Homo sapiens: one gene and its partners. The protein of the gene in region 3 purifies or fractionates together with the protein of the main gene of each other region. This does not show direct contact. Each region holds a gene or a part of one and is shown on either strand. Other genes may lie near its edges.

Region 1 (2,216 bases), on a different chromosome or scaffold from region 3:
TTTTTTTTGAGACAGCCTTACTCTGTCTCCCAGGCTGGAGTGCTGTGGCACAGTCTCGGCTCACTGCCGCCTCCGCCTCCCGGGTTCAAGCAATTCTCCTGCCTCAGCCTCCTGAGTAGCTAGAACTATAGGTGCGTGCCACCATGTACCATGCCCAGCTAATTTTTGTATTTTTAGTAGAGATGGGGTTTCACCATGTTGGCCAGGCTGGTCTTGAATTCCTGACCTTGCGATCTGCCCGCCTTGGCCTTCCAAAGTGCTGGGATTATAGGCGTGGGCCACCGTGCCCGGCGGCCATCTTCCTTCTACTTAAGAGTTTCTGTTCCCAGGCCTAGTAAGCATCTCATAGACATCAAACAAGTCACAGGAGTCTTCAGCTTGTCATTGGAATTGTAGGTGTGGATATGGCCTCCTGGAAGGAGTACAGAATCAGTACTACCCAGAGGCCAAAGGTACAGTCATGTCCTTAGTCCCAAAAGGCTCAGACACATCCCAGGCCCTTTCCACACACTTAAACAGCTGATTTATTTTTTCTCTTTATTGTTACATACAATGTATAAACACATAAAACAGAAAACAGTAGGGATCCTCTAGGATCTCTAGGGAGACAGTAAAGTAGAAAGAGGTCTCAGAAACATTTTTTTAAAGTACAAGACATTCAGTGCTCGGCCCAAAGGCGTAGAAGGTTTAGAGCCAGCAGATAGCTGTACTAAAGGCTCCGTCTCTCTCCCCAGAGCCAGGACAACCCCAGGGAGCTCTCCATTAGCAGCCAGTCCACGCAGGCAGGATGCTGCGGAGAAAGCTCTATGCTGAGAACATTCCCCTTGATGGAAAGAAGGGCAACACAAAAGGGTAACTAAGAGCTCCTTCCTCTCGTGAGGGCGACAACTGAGGAACAGAAAAGGAGTGTCCCATGTCACTCTGACCCCCTCCCCAGCTGCCCTGGGCCCAGATGCCCCCATACTTGGCATTTACCAGAACCTGTCCCAGCTCAGACCCTGCCTAGACCCACCAGGTACCCAAAGTTCTCTGGGGAGGGCCAGGGAAGAGGCTGGGTGTCAAACCAAACAGATTTTTATTTGCAGTCGTCACTGGGGCCGTTTCTTGCTGCTTATTTGTCTGCTAGCCTGCTCTTCCAGCTGCATGGCCAGGCGCAAGGCCTTGATGACATCTGGAAGAAAGGGTAGCGGTACATATGGGGTTAGTGAGAGTCTGAGGAGCCCCCATTCACTCAGGGCAGAGCTGCCATCACCTGCAGCTGCCCAAGAGCCAGCAGAGGCCACCATCGTCCACCTGCACCCCATCCAGCCACACCCACCTCGCAGGGCTGAGAAATGCTTGGCTTGCTGGGCCAGAGCAGATTCCGCTTTGTTCACAAAGGTCTCCAGGTCATAGTCTGGCTGCTCGGTCATCTCAGAGAGCTCAAGCCAGTCTGGTCCTTGCTACAACACAGGGAGGACCTTGTCAGTTCAATAACCATTTAGCAAATCATTCCTGGGGTCCTACCAACTGCAATGCAGACACCTGAGTAAGATGCTTTACCTCTGGTCCCTGACCCATACCCTGGCTGTTCACCCTCTCCCCAAGGAAATCCTTAGCTTGAATTCACCCTCTTCCTACCCCAAGCTTGTTTTTTTCGTTTTCTTTGTTTCTTTTTTGAGACAGTTTCACTCTTGTTGCCCAGGCTGGAGTGCAATGGCGTGATCTCGGCTCACCATAGCCTCCACCCCCCGAGTTTAAGGGATTCTCCTGCTTCAGCCTCCCAAGTAGCTGGGATTACAGGCAAGTGCTACCACGCCCAGCTAATTTTGTATTTTTAGTAGAGACGGGGTTTCTCCATGTTGGCCAGGCTGATCTCGAACTCTCGACCTCAGGTGATCCGCAGGCCTCGGCCTCTCAAAGTGCTGGGATTACAGGCTTGAGCCACCACTTCCGGCCTCCTATCCCAAGCTTATCCCCATCTCTTATGTCAAATGAATAACATCATTGGTCCTGATGCCCAAGCTAGAAATTTGAGTGATTTTATTTTTATTGTTTTTTGAGATGGAGTCTCACTCTGTCACCCAGGCTGGAGTGAAGTGGTGTGCGATCCTGGCTCACTGCAACCTCCGCCTCCCAGGTTTAAGTGATTCTCCTGTCTCAGCCTCCCGAGTAGCTGGGACTACAGGCACACACCACCATAGCCAGCTAATTTATTTATTTATTTATTTTTTCTT
Region 2 (3,500 bases), on a different chromosome or scaffold from region 3:
TCTCTCAGACTCACTGTCCTTCATTGCCTAATACCTAGTGCCTTAAAAACTATTGTTTAAGGCCAGGTGCGGTGACTCACGCCTGTAATCCCAGCACTTTGGGAGACCGAAGCAGGTGGATCACTTGAGGTCAGGAGTTCGAGACCAACCTGGCCAATATGGCAAAACTCCGTCTCTACTAAAAATACAAAAAATTAGTTGGGCGTGGTGGTGAGTGCCTGTAATCCTAGCTATTCAGGAGGCTGAGGCAGGAGAATCACTTGAACCCAGGAGGCGGAGGTTGCAGTGAGCTGAGATCACACCACTGCACTCCAGCCTAGGCAACACAGTGAGACTCCATCTCAAAAAAACAACAACAAAAACAACAAAAAACTATTGTTTCATATGTTTTGTGGGAGTGTTTTCTGGTTGTTTCAGGTGGGGTGGTACATCAGTCCCTGTTACTTGTTGTCAATGAAAAGAGTCAAACTTATGGCCAGGCATGGTGGCTCACGCCTGTAATCCCAGCACTTTGGGAGGCCGAGGCAGGTGGATCACCTGAGGTCAGAAGTTTGAGACCAGCCTGGCCAACATGGTGAAACCCCGTCTCTACTAAAAATACAAAAATTAGCCAAACATGGTGGTGCACACCTGTAATCCCAGTTACTCGGGAGGCTGAGGCAGGAGAATCACTTGAGCATGGGAGGAGGAGGTTGCAGTGAGCCGAGATCACGCCACTACACTCCAGCCTGGGCGACTCTGCCAGAGTCTCAGCCAGTGTGAGACTCTGTCCCCCTGCCACCAAAAAACAAAAATAAAAGAAAGAAAGAAAAAAGAAGAGAGTCCAACTCTAAAATATTTGAAGAGCTTTATTCTGAGCCAAATATTCAATTCAGTGAGACTACCTGTTTTTGCCTACAGTTTCCCTCCCTGCACTACAGCCTCGAAGCTCCCTTAAGCAGTAAGCTGTAGGAATTGTAGGGCTTACCTTATTGTTCCCCCATCTCTCAGACTCAATGACCAATGGCCCATGACACAACCCTCAGGACATCCTGAGAACCTGTGCTCAAGGTGATCAGGCTACAACTTGGTTTTATACATTTTAGTAAGACATAAGACATTAATCAATACATTTAAGATGTACATTGGTTTGGTTTGGAAAGGAGGGACAACTGGAAGGGGTGGGGGTGGTTGGGAGGGGTTGGGGGTAGCTTCCAGGTCATAGGTAGATTCAGAGGTTTTCTGATTGGCAGTTGGTTGAAAGAATTAAGTTATTGTGTAAAGACTTAGAATCAATAGAAAGGAATGTCTGGGCTTATGATAAGGGTTTGTGGAAACCAAGATTTTATCATGCAGATGAGGCTTCCAGGTAGCAGGCGACAGAGGAGATTGCAAATGTTTCTTATCAGACTTAAAGAGTCAGTTCAACAAAGTTTGTGTTGATGTTAATGCTGGTCAGCTAGGCCTGAATTCCAAAAGGGAGGAGGGTATAATGAGGCATGCCTGGTTCCCCTTTCCCTTCGTGGCCGAACTAGTTTTTCAGATTAACTTTGGAATGCCCTTGGCCAAAAGGAGGGATCCATTTGGACGGTCTAGGAGGCTTAGAATTTTATTTTTGGTTTACATAATGTCTAAAAATTAATACGTTCTTTTTCTCCTTGCTAAAAGGTAAGTTGTTTCATGTTTGCCAGCCATTTATACCTTATTAGAGATGAATTTATGAGCTAAGTGACCGAGAGTAGGTTAGATTGGGAGAGGGCATATACTAAACTGTTTATCCAAGGTGGTGTGAAAAGGAAAGTAAAAGTGTAGGACTCTAACATAATCACTTACACCACTGATTTGTCTAGGGCAGATTATCTCTGGATAATCTTAGAATTCACCAAGAAGCAGAGACAGAAGTGACTCCCTGTGTTGTGGTGCTTGCTAATGGAGTGCGGCCTTTTTCATGTTTTCCTTCCCTAGGACCAGTGTACCATGAGTACTGTGAGTGTCCGGAAGATCCTCAGGCCTGGCAGAAGACTCTTTCTTGTCCAACCAAGGAACCACAGATTGCAAAAGATTTTGCTTCCTTTCCCAGCATCAATCTCCAGCAAATGCTAAAAGAAGTCCCCAAAAGGTTTGGGGATGAGAGAGGTGCCATTGTTCATTACACGATTCTCAATAACCATGTTTACCGGAGATCTTTAGGGAAATACACAGACTTCAAGATGTTCTCTGATGAGATTTTGTTATCATTGACAAGAAAGGTAGGAGAATGAATGAATTGATAATACAGTTTAATTATTTAGGTATAACATTTAAATGTTTAGAATTATAATGACAAAGGATGAAACAGATTTCAGGCTGAGAAATGGGCATCTAAGATATTTGCAACCTGAGTGTTCATCATGTTCTCCATCTTTGTGGATCTTACTTTCCTGTAAGATTTAAAATTAAGTGGCTTGAGGCCAGGCATGGTGGCTCATACCTGCAATCACAGCACTTTGGGAGGCTGAGGCGGGTGGATCATCTGAGGTCAGCAGTTCAAGGCCAGCCTGGCCAACATGGCAAAACCCCATCTCTACTAAAAATACAAAAATTAGCTGGGCGTGGTGGTGGGCGCCTGTAATCACAGCTACTCAGGAGGCTGAGGTAGGAGAATCCCTTGAACCCAGGAGGTGGAGGCTGCAGTGGGCCAAGATTGCGCCACTGCACTCCAACCTGGGTGACAGAGTGAGACTCCATCTCAAATAAATAAATAAATAAATAAATAAATAAATAAATAAAATAGAATAAAGTGGCTGAGCCCCCATCCCAGGTAGGTATGCCATACAGGACACTCCCAAGCTTTCTTTGAGCTTCCAGAGATTTATAACAAGGTTACTTCTTATTCTTTTTTTCAAATAGTCTATATTTACAATATCCAAACAGAACAGTCTCATTTATTTATTTATTTTTAAATAGGGATGGGGTCTTGCTGTGTTGAGCAGGCTGGTCTCAAATTCTTGGGCTCAAGCCATCCTCCTGCCTCAGCCTTGATCCTAGCTGGGACTATAGGCATGCACAACCATGTCAAGAGGCCGCTTTAAGTTCTCTGTTCCGCTGAATACTACTCCTGCTTAGATTTCACCTTCTGCAGCTGTTTTCTTCTCTTCACCTCAAAATGACTTGAACTTAGAACACATTTTCCTTGTTTTACCCTAAGCATACCTAGAAGATAGCGTGCATGGGACATTTTGTCAAAGCTTGGGCTACCAGAAACAGGTTGTTTTTTTTTTCACCAGTGCATACTAAAAAACAAACAAACAAAAACCCTGATATTTAAAAATAGACATCTCTGCACTAATCAGACTCTCAGTCATACTTGCCTCTGGGAATTTCTCAGGGCTGTCCTTGACCTTAAGTTCTTAGCCTCTCACTAATGTGGTTAGGCCCTCTGTTTTTCAGGCTCCCCACATCCCCCAATAGCGCCCCCTTATCTCACTATTCAGCCTCTCTTTCCACATTTGCAGAACTCTAAATTCCTCTTAAGCAGAGCA
Region 3 (3,500 bases):
CCTTGTGGTCACAGCCGGCTGCAGGGAAGCGAGTGACGGAAGGGGATAGAGAGGGACCCCAAGCTCCGATGCCTCCTGTGGGGAAGGCCCTTCCCTCCTGCCCCCCCTCCTTTCTTCCATCTCTTGTCCCACTTATGAACTGGATGGCAGGCAGGCATCGTTTCTTTTTCATGAGGTTACTGCGTCTGGGGAAAATCTAGCTGCCCGATTCCTACAAAAGCCTTGAGTGAGGCCTCACATGGCAGCACTCATGAAGCAGCCATCGCAGGCTCCCTGGACAACCCCCAGACCTTTGTAGGTGTTGGGCCACAGGGGTCATATCACCTGTGCCTCTCCATTTTTCTTTTCTTTCTTTCTTTTTTTTTTTTTTGAGATGGAGTCTCGCTCTGTTGCCCAGGCTGGAGTGCAGTGGTGTGATCTCGGCTCACTGCAACCTCCACCTCCCAGGTTTAAGTGATTCTCCTGCCTTAGCCTCCTCAGTATCTTGGATTACAGACGTGCGCCACCATCTCTGGCTAATTTTTGTATTTTTAGTAGAGACGGGGTTTCGCCATGTTGGCCAGGCTAGTCTCAAACTCCCGACCTCAGGAGATCTACCCACCTTGGCCTCCCAAAGTGCTGGGATTACAGGCGTGAGCCACTATGCCTGGCTAATTTTTGTATTTTTAGTAGAGACAGAGTTTCACCATGTTGGCCAGGCTGGTCTCGAACTCCTGGCCCCAAGTGATCCACCTGCCTAGGCCTTCCAAAGTGCTGGGATTACAGGCGTGAGCCACTGCACCCGGCTGACCTGTGCCCCTCCTTGAAGCTGTCATCCACTGATCTCCAGCAGCCTGGACAGTCACAGGGGACTTTGACACCTGACTCAGTTCTCCCCACCCCCACTCCTGCTACCCTCCCAGGTGAAGTCAACAGACATATAACGGTCCACCCAAGACGGCCTCTCGGTTCCTTGAGGGCTTTGTCATCATCCACTGTTTCTTCACATCACAAACACATCACCCCTCTGTGGCCACCTCCTGTTCCTTCGGGGTGCTCAGGACCTCACCTTCCTGATCATGGTCATTTGGCTTTATTAAAATTAAAAAACAAAAACAAAAATGGGTCCTCACTTTGCTACCCAGGCTGGAGTACAGTAGTGCGATCATAGCTCACCATAGCCTTGAGCTCCTAGGCTCAATTGATCCTCCCGCCTCAGCCTCCCAAGTAGCTGGGACTACAGGCATGCCACCTGGGTAATTTTTTTCATTTTTGCTTGTTGTAGAGATGGGGTCTCACTATGTTGCCCAGGCTGATGTCAAACTCCTGGATTCAAGCGATCCTCCTGCCTCAGCTTCCCAAAGTGCTAGGGTCACAGGCATGAGCCACTGTGCCTGGCTGGCCTCTTAATTTTAGAGAGACCTCCAGGGTCTTGATCTTTCTATTCTCTCCCACTATTTCCTCCTCGATTGACTTAACTGACTGCAGGGCTGACCACCCAGCCTGCTCCTCTGCACCCTGCGTGGCCCTGCATCCCCGGCTCTGCACAGCACTATCTTAGAAAACTCCACCTGTGGCTCCAGCCTCACCTGGGCCCCCAGACCACTTGATACTCTTTGGATTGGCCTTTACCAGCTCCATCTCTCACCTCCTTAGTAACTGCTGCAAACATCCAGCCCCCTCCTCAAGCCACTGTGTCAGCTCCCAGTGGCAGACCACCTCTCTCCTACCTCCTGACAAAGCCAGGGCCTTCCACCATGAATGGCTTCAACCTCTGGACTCCGACCTGCAAACCCACCTACCCTGCTACCCTGCTGCCCTGAAGCCTCAGAGCAAGTGTCCCTCCTCCCCGTCAGGATGGACTGCCCTTCTGGGAGGTGCAGCTCATTGCTGCCCACGCGTGGGAACCCTCACACCACAAATGATCCAGCCTCACGCTCTCACTCAGCTCTGCAGCCTCGGAACCTTCACACATCCTGAAAGAGCTCTCCCAGGCCCCTCCAGCTACAGCCCATCGCTCTCCTTTTGTTTCCAGCTAGCCTTCGAGAACACTCGCTATGGCCACACTCTCACGGCAGGTCTCCTCAATCCACGGCAATCTGACTTCTGCCTCTGAAAAGCATGGCTTCCCCAACTCAATTTCTTTTTGCGGGGGCGGGCGGGGTGGGGGGGGACAGGGTCTTGCTCTGTTGCCCAGGCTGGAGTGAAGTGGCGCGATCCTGGCTCACTGCAACCTCTGCCTCCCAGGTTCAAGCGATTCTTGTGCCTCAGCCTCCCAAGCAGTTGGGACTATAGGCTTGCGCCACCACGCCTGGCTAATTTTTTGTATTTTTAGTGGAGACGGGTGTTGCCATGTTGCCCAGGCTGGTCTTGAGCTCCTGAGCTCAGGCAATCTGCCCCCATCAGCTTCCCAAAGTGCTGGGATTACAGGCATGAGCCACCACGCCCTGCCCCGACTCAGATTTACAAGCTGATGATCATTATTCATGATGACATTATTGGACAGCTTTCACTGGGGGAAACAGGCGGCCAGGCACTATGACTGGTGGGGAGAAGGATGGGCAAGATACAGCACGAGGGCCCGGAAAACAGGGCCCTCTCAAGTCCCTGGTAGAGGCAGGTGAAGCTCCCGTCTACCCACACTTGAACCGTGAGCTGTCACCATTACCCATCGGTGGGTTCACACAGCCCCCTGCCCTCCCTCTTTGCGCTCTGGCCTTCCACGCCCCCTGTGTTCCTTGCACGCCCATGTCTCTCCCCAGCTAGGCTGCAATCTCCGTGGGAACAGAGGGGTTCCTGTCTTGAATCCCCTACAGATCTTTGCATAGTGCTGGGTCCTCCATAGGAATCAGGAAATGCTTACAGATCTGTAATTAACCTATCACCTGAGTAAGAAACCACACATGCTTCTAAGGTGAATCAGCAGATGGAAAGGTAAACAGGCCATCTTCTCCAGGAGCTTCACCCCTGTCCTGGCTATCTTGTGGATTCTGTTCTTTATCAAACCATCTTTTTACACAGGGGAGTACAGAGACAGAATGCAGTTTAGACAATATCAGTATAAGGTCCCCTCTAGCTAGTTCCATGACTCAGGAACTGTGTATTTGGGAAGCCTGAGGTCACAGGGTTGGAAGCCCTCGACTGTCCACTGGTTCACTGTTGAGGGCTTCGGTTCTGTTTCTGCTTGTGAGCAGCTCATCTGTTTAAACCTGGGTTGTCAACCTAACCAGGGTGGGAAGAGTCACTTGCCAAGCATGGTGCTAATGGCTCAGAGCCATGTCTATAAAGCTTAGTACCCTGCAAGGTAGGTATCATTTTTATTATTTTTTATTTTTTGAAACGGAGTCTTGCTCTGTTGCCCAGGCTGGAGTGCAATGGCATGATCTCGGCTCACTGCAACCTCCGCCTTCCAGGTTCAAGCAATTCTCCTGCCTCAACCTCCTGAGTAGCTGGGATTACAGGTGCGTCCCACCACGCCTGGCTAATTTTTTGTATTTCTAGTAGAGACGGGTTTTCATCAC
Region 4 (3,500 bases), on a different chromosome or scaffold from region 3:
TATGTTGTATTTGTGATATAGAGACTCTAAGATTTATCCCCAAGACTTTTAAGAAATAGTTTAGAATAATTTTATATTGGGTGGGTAGAAGATGTAAGATAGGGTATGGGATTGGATCTCTTTTAAGTACTCTTGAACTACTATTTTTGTAGCACACATGTAAACCAACTGATTAAAAATTTTTTATACTGATTGTAGTTTTTCATTGAGTTAGAAGTGATATAACAAAACTTAATTTTATTTTTTTGAGATAGGGTCTTGCTCTGTCATCAGGCTGGAGTGCAGTGGCGTGATCATAGTCCACTGACCCCTCACCTGCTGGGTTCAAGCAATCCTCCTGAATAGCTGGAATGACAGGCATGTGCCACCATGCCCGCTGATTTTTAAATTTTTTGTAGAGACAGGGTCTCGCTCTGTTGCCCAGGCTGGTCTTGAACTCCTGGCCTCAAGTGATCCTCCTGCCTCAGCCTCCCAGAGTGCTGGGATTACAAGTGTGAGCCCTCGTGCCTGGCCCAAACTAATACTGTTAATGTGAACAATTCATTGGCATTTAGTACATTCAAAATGAAAGGCAACTACCACCTTTATCATCTAATTTAAAACATTGTCATCATCCCAAAAGGAAACTACTCATTAAGCAGTTGCTCCTCATTCCCCCTTCTGCCAGCCCTGACAGCAACCAATCCGCAGTCTGTTTCTATGGATTTAACTGTTCTGGATATTTTGTGTAAGTGGAATCATACAGTATGTGACCTCTGTTTAGCTTTTTAAATTTAGCATAACATTTTCGAGATTCATCCACATGGTATCTTGTATCAGTACTCCGTTCCTTTTTGTAGCCGAATACTCCATTTTATGTATATATGGTGATTTGTTTATGCATTCATCCATTGAAGGACAGTTGGGCTGTTTCTACCTTTTGGCTATTGTGAATAGTGCTGCTTACTATGAACATGGCATGTATATGTATTTGTTTGAGTAGCTGTTTCAATTCTTTTGGGTATCTGTATACCTAGGAATTGTGTTGCTCAGTCATTTAACTTTTTGGGAACTTGACAAACTGTTTTCCACAGTGATTGAACCATTTTAAATTTCCATCTTCAGTGTAGAAGGTTTTCCATTTCTCCACATCCTTATTGACACTTAGGTTCCATTTTTTAAAACATTATAGCTATCCTAGTATATATGAAGTGCTACTTCATTGTGGTTTTGATTTGCATTTCCTTAATGACTAGTGATGTTGAGTATCTTTTCATCTGCTTCTTGGCCATTTGTATATTTTGTTTGGATAAATGTCTGTTCAAGTCCTTTGCCCATTTTTAAGTTGGGTTGGTTGTCTTTATAGAGTTCTTTATATAGTTTGGGTAGTAGATCCTTATCAGGTATAATTTGTAACTTTTATTTTACAGGTTGTCTTTTTACTTTCTTGTTAATATACTTAGATGTATTAAACATTTTTAATTTTGGAGATACACTCATTTTTTTCTTTTGTTGCTTCTGCTTTTGGTGTCCTATCTAAGAATCCAGTGCTAAGTCTAAGTCATGAAGATTTATCCCTGTTTTCTTCTGAGAGTTTTCTGGCTTTAGCTTTTATATTTAGGCTGTTGATGCATTTTCAGTTAATATTTGTATATGGTCTAAGGTCCAGCTTCATTGTTTTGCCTGTGTACATCCAGTTGTCTTTTCCTTTGTCTTCTCTAGACTTTTGTTTACTTTTTCTAGGAATGCCTTCTGCTTCAACACCTTCTGTTCACATTCTATCCATTATTCAGACAAATTGCACTCCTACATATGGAGCTTTTGCTTATAGATAGGCACCTTCCTCTAATACCAGGGGCCAGGGTTTTCTATGTCTTAGAAACCCTAAGCATTTAAATATATGTTTTGCTCTTTTTTTCCAACAGTTATAAAAGGCCTTTTGGTTCTTCTAAAAAGTTTTAAGATAATTGAATTTTTCATGGCTAGACTAAGCATTTGTCTAGTCTCCTAGTCTTTTAGATTTGTCTAAAATTGTTATTCTAGCTTTGAAGAAACAGTCTTTTTATTTGCCTTTAAAGAATTTGTAATAACTCGAATGGTTTTTGGATGGTTCGTGTAAAAATACTGTAGGACAGGCTACATTGAGAGGCTTAAAAAGGAGATACAAATAAATTTCTTCTAATGAATGTCATCTTTGTTAGGTATCTGAACTTAGGACTGGAGCTGCAGAAGGACTAGCCAAGCTGATGTTCTCTGGGCTTTTGGTCAGCAGCAGGATTCTTTCTCGTCTTATTTTGTTATGGTACAATCCTGTGACTGAAGAGGATGTTCAACTTCGACATTGCCTAGGCGTGTTCTTCCCCGTGTTTGCTTATGCAAGCAGGTATTGAGTCATACTGATAAATCAAAAATCTGACTTGACATCAAATTCAAGTCCCCCATGAATTATATCTATAATGATATTTTGTTGTTGATACTTTTTCTGTCTTTAGTAGATAAATGATGAAATGACAAGAACGATACAGATTTTATCTATCTGAATTTTTGGCTCTTTCCTAGATGAAAATGCACTTAATGAGTGAATTTCCTACATAGTAGTTTTGAATTTCATACTTTTTCTCTCATCAAATAATGTTCTGCCAACATACTTTGAATTTGTTTCTCAATAGGACTAATCAGGAATGCTTTGAAGAAGCTTTTCTTCCAACCCTGCAAACACTGGCCAATGCCCCTGCATCTTCTCCTTTAGCTGAAATTGATATCACAAATGTTGCTGAGTTACTTGTAGATTTGACAAGACCAAGTGGATTAAATCCTCAGGCCAAGACTTCCCAAGATTATCAGGTGAGTGACTGTGGTAACTGCATGCAGATCACTGTTTTGGTAAAATAATCTCTCTCAAAGATCCCTTGAAATACTGAGGAACTGCATTTTGGTCTTTAGACTTCTGTCTCAAGCATATACCACAAAGCACGAAAGAAACATGACCTTGGGAAATGTGGAGAAATCATATGAAAACAGAAGTAATCAATGCTAACATTTTTGCTACTGAAAAGAAATTACTAAAAATCCACCACCCACACCATGCCCACCTAGTACTGACTGTTAATCTGAAGTAATAACCTATGTTATCTAGGACTCACAGAGTCTTCAAATGTTGGCTTACCTGCTATGCTTCTGGCACAAGAAAGGAGAATTCAAAGACTAGAACTCACCTCAAGCTTTTTTGGCTTTTAATTCAAAGAAGATAAATCAATTGCACACTGACTCACAGACTGAACTTAAGCTGGGTTGTTTTAATCCTTTAATGGCATTTGGTCAAACTTGTTACCATTTTTGAAATTTAATGTATTAGTGATTTCAGATGCTAACAGATTAAGTTGAAAGTATTACTCTATTTTATTTGATATTTAGTGATAAGCTACTCTGTTCAATTCATATGTTGTATATTATTGGAAAGATAAGATTACAAAGGATATTAGGCAAAATTAGGTAAGGGTCAGTAATAGAGCTATTAAGCA
Region 5 (2,199 bases), on a different chromosome or scaffold from region 3:
CGGTGCCAACATGATGCACAAAGAAAATGCTTAGTGGAGTTTTGTGGAATTTGTACTCTTGTATTAGGGATGGTGAACTGGTAAGTATGATGCAAATATTCTGAAATCTGAACAAATCCAAAATCCTGAACACTTCTGGTCCCAAGTATTTTAGATAAGAGATACTCTATGTGAGAACAAGACAGCAGGTGGTTAAAGGAATTTCCACACTTAGGTTGCTTTCAAGAGAGACAAAAGTATTAACAGGATCTTAATCTGCCTCAGATTTACTGGGGAGCAAATGCATTCATATTTGAGGATTTCTAAAATGTTTAATTTGCCTCTTAAAAATGTTTTTAGTTAGCACCAAAAAAGACAGACCAGGAAAGAGTATGTGATTAATACATTCAGTAAATACAAGATGACTTTTCCTTGTCCTGACATTTATTTTTAAATGGTATTGGATAAATAACATAAGTAGTTATTGTAAATAAAATCTGAAAGAAGCAGAGGAAGCATGATGTTTCTGAATCCTTTTATTTTTTAAAGGACTTTTAAAATTTGAAACTACAAAACGGATTTCATACATTCTGCCATAAATAAAAACAAACAATAAGGCAGGACTCTACATAAGCAAACCAAGAACAATTGTTTTCAGAAAATGTGATAAAATGCTTTACAATCATAAGCCATCCAGTTTTTAAAATAAAACTGTTGAAAAACTCACAAATCTTCAAGCGGCACATACAAGACACCCTTGAAGAGGGAACAAAATGTGGTTCTGCCACTTTGTACTGTTCTCACATTTTTGAAAACCTAATTTTGCTTAGAGCATAGGTCTGTTCCGTATTCTAAAATTCACACAGGTTGGTTTGTTTTTTCTCAAGAACCATGTGATAGAGGCACCAATGACAATACAACTTTGTTTCCAAGAACCTTGTAACAAAGCGTTGTCTCTTTTAAACATACCACTTGAGGCAAAAGGAATCCTGGACAGGAGTTTTCTGCAGAGGCGTTTAAAACCCTACCGAATCCGCTTCTGCTGCCGTGCTCTGTAAATGTCATGAACAGGGGGGACAACGGCTCCCTTTTCTTCATCTTCATCTGAATCCTCGTTGGGCCTTTTGACGGCCTTGGTGAGTACTGCATTACTTTCCACGGGGCCGTTGCCTTCTACAGCTAGCTCTGGGGCCCCACCAGTAATGATCCTCACAGCTTCCTCAACAGCTATTAAAACAAAACAACAAAACGTAAAAACATATTCCACTATGAAAGGGTATGTATGTTCAACTGTGGATACTTTATTTCATAGCCTACTATTTTAGCAAAACATGGGATAGTACTACTGATACTAAATAATTAAAGAAAAAGACAAAAGCTGCTGTTAAAACTAATAATTTTCATAAGCCAAGCCTGATAGTGCATGTTCACATGAATAGAAAAGATAAAGTTTTATGACATTTTACTTAGTGGAATTCAATGTGAATAAGCCTTTCTCTGCCAAAGAGGGTTTGGGTAACTCCTGGGTTTCACTGCACTTCAAATTGGCTGGCTGGTTTCGAAAACTTCAGTGGCAGAGAATAATAATCTCTACTGCCTATGAGACAACAACGTGGAATGACACTCTGAAATGGAGCTTCTGTTACTTACTATTTGGTATCTTGCATCTTCGGAAAATTTCCATCAGTTCATCCACTTGTACAAAAGGACCCTATTTTTGACATGAATAAATTTTAATCCCAGTAATCTGACAAGTTAAAGTAGTAGTAACTTTATACACAATTACTATGACCCACAGAGCCAGTATCTACCATGAAAATAAGTGAACAAACCTGGAAACAGATAGGAGGAGGGAGAAGTTTCATTAAAACAACAGCTGCAGGAGGGACTGGGAACACTCCACCAGGTACAGGGTGTAAACCTGGAGCTGTGAGAAAAAGAAAAGTATGAATCAAGTGGAATGGAAGAATTTCTACACAGAGCTAAAATCAAGTGACTTGCACATAAAGATCTTCCATGTCTGCTGCTTTGTTCTGGACACTGAAAATACTTCTAGGGCTTTACCAAACCAAAGTGGGTGAGACAGCAGTCTCAATGCCGTGGCCACTGGGAGGCAGAGAAGTAGACAAGTGACTTTGTGTAAGACAACCAGGGACTGAACTAAAGTCAGTTTTTGTCAAAGAGTGTTTCTGAGTTACACAAGTCATTTGTTTAGCAATC
Region 6 (3,500 bases), on a different chromosome or scaffold from region 3:
CCACCTGCTGGTGGCCAGCACCTTCATACACCACTTGGGCTCCCCCAACCTTCTGGATACTCAGGTCTTGTGCATTCTCTTGTATCACAGAGAGACACAAATGACTGTCTAGTTTTTAGTGTCCATTTGCTACAACAATCAAAATGTATAGAATTCAAAAAACGCTTTAAAAAGCTCAAGTTTAAATTTAAATTTAACTGAACCTCAGTATTTGATAGATCTCCTTTTTTTACTCAAGTAAAAAACAGCTTGGGGCTGGGCATGGTGGCTCACGCCTGTAATCCCAGCACTTTGGGAGGCCAAGGCAGGAGGATTACTTGAGGCCTGGAGTTCAAGACCAGCCTGGCCAACATGGCGAAACCTTGTCTCTACTAAAAATACAAAAATTAGCCAGGCACGGTGGTGCACGTCTGTAATCCCAGCTACTTGAGAGGCTGAGAGATGAGAATCACTTGAATCTGGGAGGCGGAGGTTGCAGTGAGCAGAGGTTGCAGTGAGCCGAGATTACGCCACTGCACTCCAGCCTGGGTGACAGACTGAGACTCTGTCTCAAAACCAAACCAAACAAAACAGAACAAAACAAAACAAAAACCCCCATAAAAGAAAAACCAAAAAAACAGGTTGGGTCAGTGGCTCACACCTATAATCCCAGCACTTTGGGAGGACAAGGCAAGAGGATCACTTAAGATCATGAGTTCAAGACCAGCCTGGGTAACATAGGGAGACTCTGTCTCTACAAAAATAAAAGAAAATGAGCTCAGTGTGGTGGCACGTGCCTGTAGTTCTAGCTACTTGGGGCGCGGAGGTGGGAGGATTACTTGAGCCCAGGAGGTTGAGGCTATAGTGAGCTATAATCATGCCACTGCACTCCAGCATAGACGACAGAGCAAGACCCCAACTCTAAAAAAAATTTTTTTTAAATAAAATAAACAAATAAAAAACATTAGTAAGCAAAGCAACTGATCTCTAGTGAGGTGAACTCAAGACAAGGGTCTGCGGGAGTTCTCTCCACAGACTGCTGTGCCAGAACCAGGGGAGAGTTTAGATAGCCAGGTGTGAGAGGCAATGGGAAGAACGAGTTCTAGAATCTTTGCTACTGACACAGCCATTTCTGGTTGGTTTATGGAGGGTAAACCCATTGAACTTCTTCAATGTTAAACAAAAATTCACCATCACCATGGTCAACTAAAGCAAAAGGCTATTAGGTTGAGAAAATGATTTTTTTTTTTTTTTTTTTGAGACGGAGTCTCACTCTGTTGCTCAGGCTGGAGCGCAGTGGCACAATCTCGGCTCACTGCAAGCTCCGCCTCCTGGGTTCACGCCATTCTCCTGCCTCAGCCTCCAGAGTAGCTGGGACTACGGGTGCCCACCACCACGCCCAGCTAATTTTTTGTATTTTTGGTAGAGACGAGGTTTCACCGTGTTAGCCAGGATGGTCTCAATCTCCTGACCTGGTGATCCGCCCGCCTCGGCCTCCCAAAGTGCTGGGATTACAGGCGCAAGCCAACGCGCCCAGCCGAGACACTGATTTTTGAAGACATGGTACTTATATGACAACAAATGAAAAGATCCCAGGACACTAACTGTCTTGAAGCATTCACTACTGCTGAGTGAGAATGCTCTACACTTGACAGTTAAAAAGGGGGGCAGCAGGATTTATAGTGGTGTACTTAAGACAAGACTATACTTGTCTGTCAGCAGCCAGGATAAAAAGAAATGATGTGGCTCTGCCCTGATAAGCCAGTGGGCAGGCAGATTCCCACAACATCATCTCCATCTCATGCCAGCCCCGAAGCCGGAGGTCATCATTGCATGTTTCACAGGGTTTTCCCCAAGCAGAGGTGATTTGAAAGGAACAGTGGACAGAAGATGGACAAACAGGTGGGAAGGATGGGGGGACACTGTTAAGATTCTGATAGCTGAGCAGAGTTCTGGCTGGAACTCTGGGGTTGCTATCATCAGACAACCATTTGCTATTTAAGCAGCAGGTCAGATCGTATTTAAACTGTCCTCATAAGGAAGATGGAACAACTGAGGTCTGTGTGCAGTGCAACCTTTTACTTGGTTGCAAAGCCCCAGTAATCCTCAATAAGGGACAAGGTCTCTGGCTCCCAGCATTTCTTCAATTCTCTAGCAGCCCCTAGATGACCCAGCACAGATCAGATTTACTCACCCAGTGTTTCCGATCAACATCTTCATCTGCATCCCACTTGCGAGTTAAGAAAGGGTGTTTTTTGCTGATTATTTCTCCTTCGAAGAAGGTTGTAAGGGTTGGATACTCCTATGGTAAAAACCCAAATATCAAAATAAGATGTTGAGTGAGAGTTTTTAACCTTTGTACAAAGGAAAAATAAACTTTGCTTTAACTTCTTTCCAGTACCTAGACACTGCTACCTGACAATCCAAACCAGAGTTAGATCGCAGCCAGTTTGCCAACAGGCTGTGGCAATGGACCTGAATCTAAATCACCCAGAGAATGAAGGGTTTCCTGGATTTTGCCAGCAGCAGACAGCCCTTCTTTGACTTCAATTGTTACATGCTAGTCTCTTAGAAAATAATTTGGATGTTTCCACAAATAAATTTTTAATATTCTAGCATACAAAGCAGATCATAACTTGGTAGATTTTACTTTCCAAGGTTAGACCCAAAGAGGCTCCAAAATCACTGTGTCTACCACTAAGGCTCCCTCAAGCCACTGGTTCTCCAACTGGCTCAGTCATTTGTCCCTTTTACACCAATTCTCCAAGGTTCCAGGGTGGATTCTGGGGTAGAATACTTTTTTATTTTTCCTGAGACAGAGTCTTGCTCTGTCGCCCAGGCTGGAGTGCAATGGCACAATTTCGGTTCACTGCAACCTCCTCCCACACCCTGGGTTTATGTGATTCTCCTACCTCAGCCTCCCGAGTAGTTGGGATTACAGTTGGCTGCCACCACGCCCACCTAATGTTTGTATTTTTAGTAGAGACGGGGTTTCGCCATGTTGGCCAGGCTGGTCTCGAACTCCTGACCTCAGGTGATCCACCCGCCTTGGCCTCCCAAAGTGCGAGGATTACAGGTGTGAGCCACCGCACCCAGCCTAAAATACCTTTTATTTTGGCCAGGCATGGTGGCTCACGCCTGTAATCCCAGCACTTTGGGAGGCCGAGGTGGGAGGATCACCTGAGGTCAGGAGTTCAAGACCAACCTGACCAACATGGAGAAACCTCATCTCTACTAAAAATACAAAATTAGCCGGGCGTGGTGGCGCATGCCTGTAATCCCACCTACTCGGGAGGCTGAGGCAGGAGATTGCTTGAACCTGGAGGCGGAGTTTGCAGTAAGCCGAGATCACGCCATTGCACTCCAGCCTGGGCAATAAGAGTGAAACTCTGTCTCAAAAAAAAAAAAAAAAAAAAAAAGTAAATACTTTTTTCAGTGTTCTACATGTTCAGAGAAACTTCTAGTAATGAACTATACAAATGGTCCCTGAAGGTAGTCTTAGAATACCTTGATACATAGGG
Region 7 (3,500 bases), on a different chromosome or scaffold from region 3:
CCTGATTGTGCCACTGTACTCTATCTAGCCTAGGTAACAGAATGAGACCCTGTTTCACAAAATAACAATAATAGTAATACTTAAATGGAGATAAAAGTAATAGAGGAAGAGGCAGGAGGAAGGAGAGTCCTGAGGGATCTTTCCATTTCCCTTATTTCTCTTGCTACAGATTTCTGTACGAGCGACATGAGCAGTCCAAGCAGGACCTCAAGGGTCTGGAGGAGACAGTTGTGAGTGGTTCCCTTCTGTGCCAAATTCACAGGACTGGGGAGTGGGGAGGCTTCATTTCTTCCTAACCCTATTCCTCCTGCCCTTTTGCAGCCATTCTGTAGCGTAATCAAGACACATTTTTTCCTAAAGGATAAGTGACTCACTTGATTATAGAGACTGGAGGTACCTATAATTCTGGAGGAATAGGACAGACCTGGTATCTGGCTATTCCCAATTTTTCATCATTCTTTCCAGGCCCGGGAACTCCAGACCCTCCACAACCTTCGCAAGCTGTTCGTTCAAGACGTCACGACTCGAGTCAAGAAAGTGAGTGCTGTCCTTGGGGTTTTGTCAGCCCCCACATCCTCCTCCTATCCTTAGGTTTCTCCTGCCCCTGTTGCCCCTATGGGGCTGGCTTGGCCTGGTCTTGGTGGGACCTGTTTGGCCTCAGGACAGCCACGTCTTTCCTTCTATCTGTTCTCAGAGTGCAGAAATGGAGCCCGAAGACAGTGGGGGGATTCACTCCCAAAAGCAGAAGATTTCCTTTCTTGAGAACAACCTGGAACAGCTTACAAAGGTTCACAAACAGGTAAGAGTCTGCTGAAGGAGTGAAGAGAATTTTTGAGGCCGGGTAGCTAGCATACCAAATCCTCAGAGGCCCCTTGGATTCAGGAAAATCTAGTTGCATGTTTTCCTTACTGTTCGCTTTTACTTTCCCTACTAATCCCTTCTTTATACCATATTTGGTCCACTTGTACCTTGTTCTTTGTTTCATGCCTGTATTCCCTTCTCAAAGTTTCTAACCCACCTCTGCTCAAAGTGGAATTCCCCAGGCCTACCTTGGAGGGAGAGGTTGAAACTAACAGAGGCATGGGCTGTAACTATACAGGAGGGAGACTGGTCAGACGTTACCCAGAGATGGAAGGCAGGGAGATGAGAAGAAGCAAGGGAGTTGGGCTTCTTTCGTGGAGAGAACTCCATCTGTCTAGGTCTGTGGCAGGCATGCAGGGACATTAAATGATGTCCCTGGCTAGGCACAGTGGTGCATGCCTGTAGTCCCAGCGCTTCAGGAAGCCGAGGCGGGCGGATCACTTGAGCACAGGAGTTCAAGACCAGCCTAAGCAACATGGCGAAACCCCATCTCTACAAAAAATACAAAAATTAGCCGGATGTGGTGGCACACACCCATAGTCCCAGCTACTTGGGAGGCTGAGGTAGGGCAATTGCTTGAGCGCAGGAAGTAGAGGCTGCAGTGAGCTGTGATCATGCCACTGCACTCCAGCCTAGGTGACAGAGTGAGACCCTGTTTCAATTAAAAAAAAATGATGTCCCTAAGATGGCCCAACCAGCCCCTGGTTGGGGCCCCAGTCAAAACTCCTGTGTATTAAGTTGCTGCCTCTCTGTCCCCCTCCTTGCTGTTGCGGTTCTTTAGGTGGATGACTGGGTTTCAAAGGTATGGGCTGGGGATGCAGAAGGGCAGTCCAAAGGAGTCAGGACAGGAAATGTTTGGTGCATGCTGGGTAGGGGCACTCTCACTAGCACTAAATATCTGAGCCTTGAAGACAGGCTCGGCAGGCTGTCAACTGGTCCTTTTAACTAATTCATAAAATAAACCCTAACCTATACTTCATTCCTTTCCTTTCAAATCTACCTTAAGATTCCATTTAAACTTACATTCTCACTAGCCTAGCACTTAAACTTCTTTTCCTCCCAGTATAATGCCCAGCTTATATAGTAAATATTCAGTACTTTTTTTTTTCTTAATGAATCCTAAACCTGTGCCCAGTGATAATGTACAGAGTTTATTTATCTTATTTAGGCCTGCAGAGGGCTTTGCTACGATTTTATTTCCTTTATTATGAAACTGAGTAACAAAATTATAGAAAAGTTGAAAGGCAGATAGGAAACATTTGAAATCAATTCTGCCATTCGATTTTCATTCCCGCATTCACTTTCCCTCTCTGTCCAAATCCATATTATGTTGCTTAGAACACACACACACATGTGTGTGCTACTCTGGGCCTCTCTGCCTATGGGAAAGCCCTGCTCTATGGAGCAAGCCCCAGAAAAATTTCCATGAAAAAACACAACCACACACTGTTTCCTTTATCGTCACTGAAGCCTCTGCCTCTGTTCAAAGTCCCAAAAAAACAAAAATGACTCACCTATAGGATAAATAGAGGACTCACTACAATTTCCTACCTCAGCAGACACAAGAGTAAAAAGGAAAAGGAGATAAAAACTTCTCAGTTAAGAGAATCTTAACAGCCAGGACTATAGCCCTATATCAATTAAGCTAAAGTATTGTCACAGCAAAACATTGCTTATACTCCATAAATTGTCCAAATGGAAACTGCATGGAAGGGTTTCTAGCTTGTCCCCTTGAGCCCCCAGTGTTCCCCGCTATGCTGATTTACCCGCTGTCTTCCAAGGCCCTGCTCCTTTTGCAACCTATAGTGCCCCCAGTCATTGTGTGGAACCTGTAAAAAGATCAGGAAGTCTTTTCGGGCTGCAGGGTGGTTGCTCCCATGCTCTAGCTTAATTTCACTGGGGGAGGGATAACCCAGGAAGTCCTTGAATGTGAAGGTAATGAGTGCAAATGTTTGTGAGACCTCAAACATTTTCTTTCCTTCCTACGGGGCGGGCTCTGCCTGTCTATATGTGTATGTCAGGGGCTCCTGAATTCCAGCTTCTGCTCCTGCTCTGCACTGCACCTGCCATGCACAGATTCTCCTCAATGCCACAGCCACCAAACTGCTACTGTGCCCTTGCTGCCCCACCCTTTGCATGCCCACAAAGCCCTCTCTGGGGAAGCGGGTCCCTCATCCCCATGGCCGCCCTGGGGCTATTGATCTGGCACATGCTGGGAGATGTGGGGGAAACCAGATGGAGACAGGACAAGGCGCTCTCACAAGAGTTCTGGGCTGCAGTGGAGATGGCAGGTTTTACTGCCTAGAAAATTATATAACTTTTAAATGCCTGACCACCCACCCTTCGCTCTGGGAGAAGGAATGAGCTGGACAGAACAGTCCATTACATAAAGGCAATGAGGCCTTTTGAGGAAATGACATGGTCTCCATCTTCTCTGACTCCTGATTTTTCTTTATTCTCTCTCCTCACCCCTGTCCCCTACGCTCCTCTGGGTGACCGTCTTGGGTCACTTGCCTTCCTTTCCACTTCTTCCCTTTGGCTTGCCCCATAGCTGGTACGTGACAATGCAGATCTGCGTTGTGAGCTTCCTAAATTGGAAAAACGACTTAGGGCTACGGCTGAGAGAGTTAAGGCCCTGG

The links.
Region 1: the proteins of BMP1 (region 3) and KIF2C purify together in Homo sapiens (affinity purification with mass spectrometry; 2 studies listed by BioGRID and IntAct, with this or other methods). This does not show direct contact.
Region 2: the proteins of BMP1 (region 3) and POGLUT3 purify together in Homo sapiens (affinity purification with mass spectrometry; 2 studies listed by BioGRID and IntAct, with this or other methods). This does not show direct contact.
Region 4: the proteins of BMP1 (region 3) and NCAPG purify together in Homo sapiens (affinity purification with mass spectrometry; 2 studies listed by BioGRID and IntAct, with this or other methods). This does not show direct contact.
Region 5: the proteins of BMP1 (region 3) and CSTF3 purify together in Homo sapiens (affinity purification with mass spectrometry; 2 studies listed by BioGRID and IntAct, with this or other methods). This does not show direct contact.
Region 6: the proteins of BMP1 (region 3) and GID4 purify together in Homo sapiens (affinity purification with mass spectrometry; 2 studies listed by BioGRID and IntAct, with this or other methods). This does not show direct contact.
Region 7: the proteins of BMP1 (region 3) and KIF5A purify together in Homo sapiens (affinity purification with mass spectrometry; 2 studies listed by BioGRID and IntAct, with this or other methods). This does not show direct contact.

The regions. Positions count from the first base shown.
Region 1 is NC_000001.11:44,766,052-44,768,267, reverse strand, and holds the end of KIF2C (kinesin-like protein KIF2C), read right to left. Parts: intron 1,443-2,216; coding exon 1,319-1,442; intron 1,172-1,318; coding exon 1,089-1,171; 3' UTR 501-1,088; downstream 1-500. UniProt on the Homo sapiens protein: In complex with KIF18B, constitutes the major microtubule plus-end depolymerizing activity in mitotic cells. Regulates the turnover of microtubules at the kinetochore and functions in chromosome segregation during mitosis.
Region 2 is NC_000011.10:108,484,885-108,488,384, reverse strand, and holds part of POGLUT3 (protein O-glucosyltransferase 3 isoform 1 precursor), read left to right. Parts: intron 1-1,944; coding exon 1,945-2,228; intron 2,229-3,500. UniProt on the Homo sapiens protein: Protein glucosyltransferase that catalyzes the transfer of glucose from UDP-glucose to a serine residue within the consensus sequence peptide C-X-N-T-X-G-S-F-X-C. Can also catalyze the transfer of xylose from UDP-xylose but less efficiently.
Region 3 is NC_000008.11:22,203,372-22,206,871, reverse strand, and holds part of BMP1 (bone morphogenetic protein 1 isoform 3 precursor), read right to left. Parts: intron 19-3,500; coding exon 1-18. UniProt on the Homo sapiens protein: Metalloprotease that plays key roles in regulating the formation of the extracellular matrix (ECM) via processing of various precursor proteins into mature functional enzymes or structural proteins.
Region 4 is NC_000004.12:17,834,979-17,838,478, forward strand, and holds part of NCAPG (condensin complex subunit 3), read left to right. Parts: intron 1-2,180; coding exon 2,181-2,362; intron 2,363-2,648; coding exon 2,649-2,823; intron 2,824-3,500. UniProt on the Homo sapiens protein: Regulatory subunit of the condensin complex, a complex required for conversion of interphase chromatin into mitotic-like condense chromosomes.
Region 5 is NC_000011.10:33,084,084-33,086,282, forward strand, and holds the end of CSTF3 (cleavage stimulation factor subunit 3), read right to left. Parts: intron 1,907-2,199; coding exon 1,812-1,906; intron 1,691-1,811; coding exon 1,630-1,690; intron 1,207-1,629; coding exon 1,004-1,206; 3' UTR 501-1,003; downstream 1-500. UniProt on the Homo sapiens protein: One of the multiple factors required for polyadenylation and 3'-end cleavage of mammalian pre-mRNAs.
Region 6 is NC_000017.11:18,052,908-18,056,407, reverse strand, and holds part of GID4 (glucose-induced degradation protein 4 homolog), read right to left. Parts: intron 2,282-3,500; coding exon 2,174-2,281; intron 1-2,173.
Region 7 is NC_000012.12:57,577,544-57,581,043, forward strand, and holds part of KIF5A (kinesin heavy chain isoform 5A), read left to right. Parts: intron 1-169; coding exon 170-230; intron 231-465; coding exon 466-537; intron 538-694; coding exon 695-799; intron 800-3,412; coding exon 3,413-3,500. UniProt on the Homo sapiens protein: Microtubule-dependent motor required for slow axonal transport of neurofilament proteins (NFH, NFM and NFL). Can induce formation of neurite-like membrane protrusions in non-neuronal cells in a ZFYVE27-dependent manner.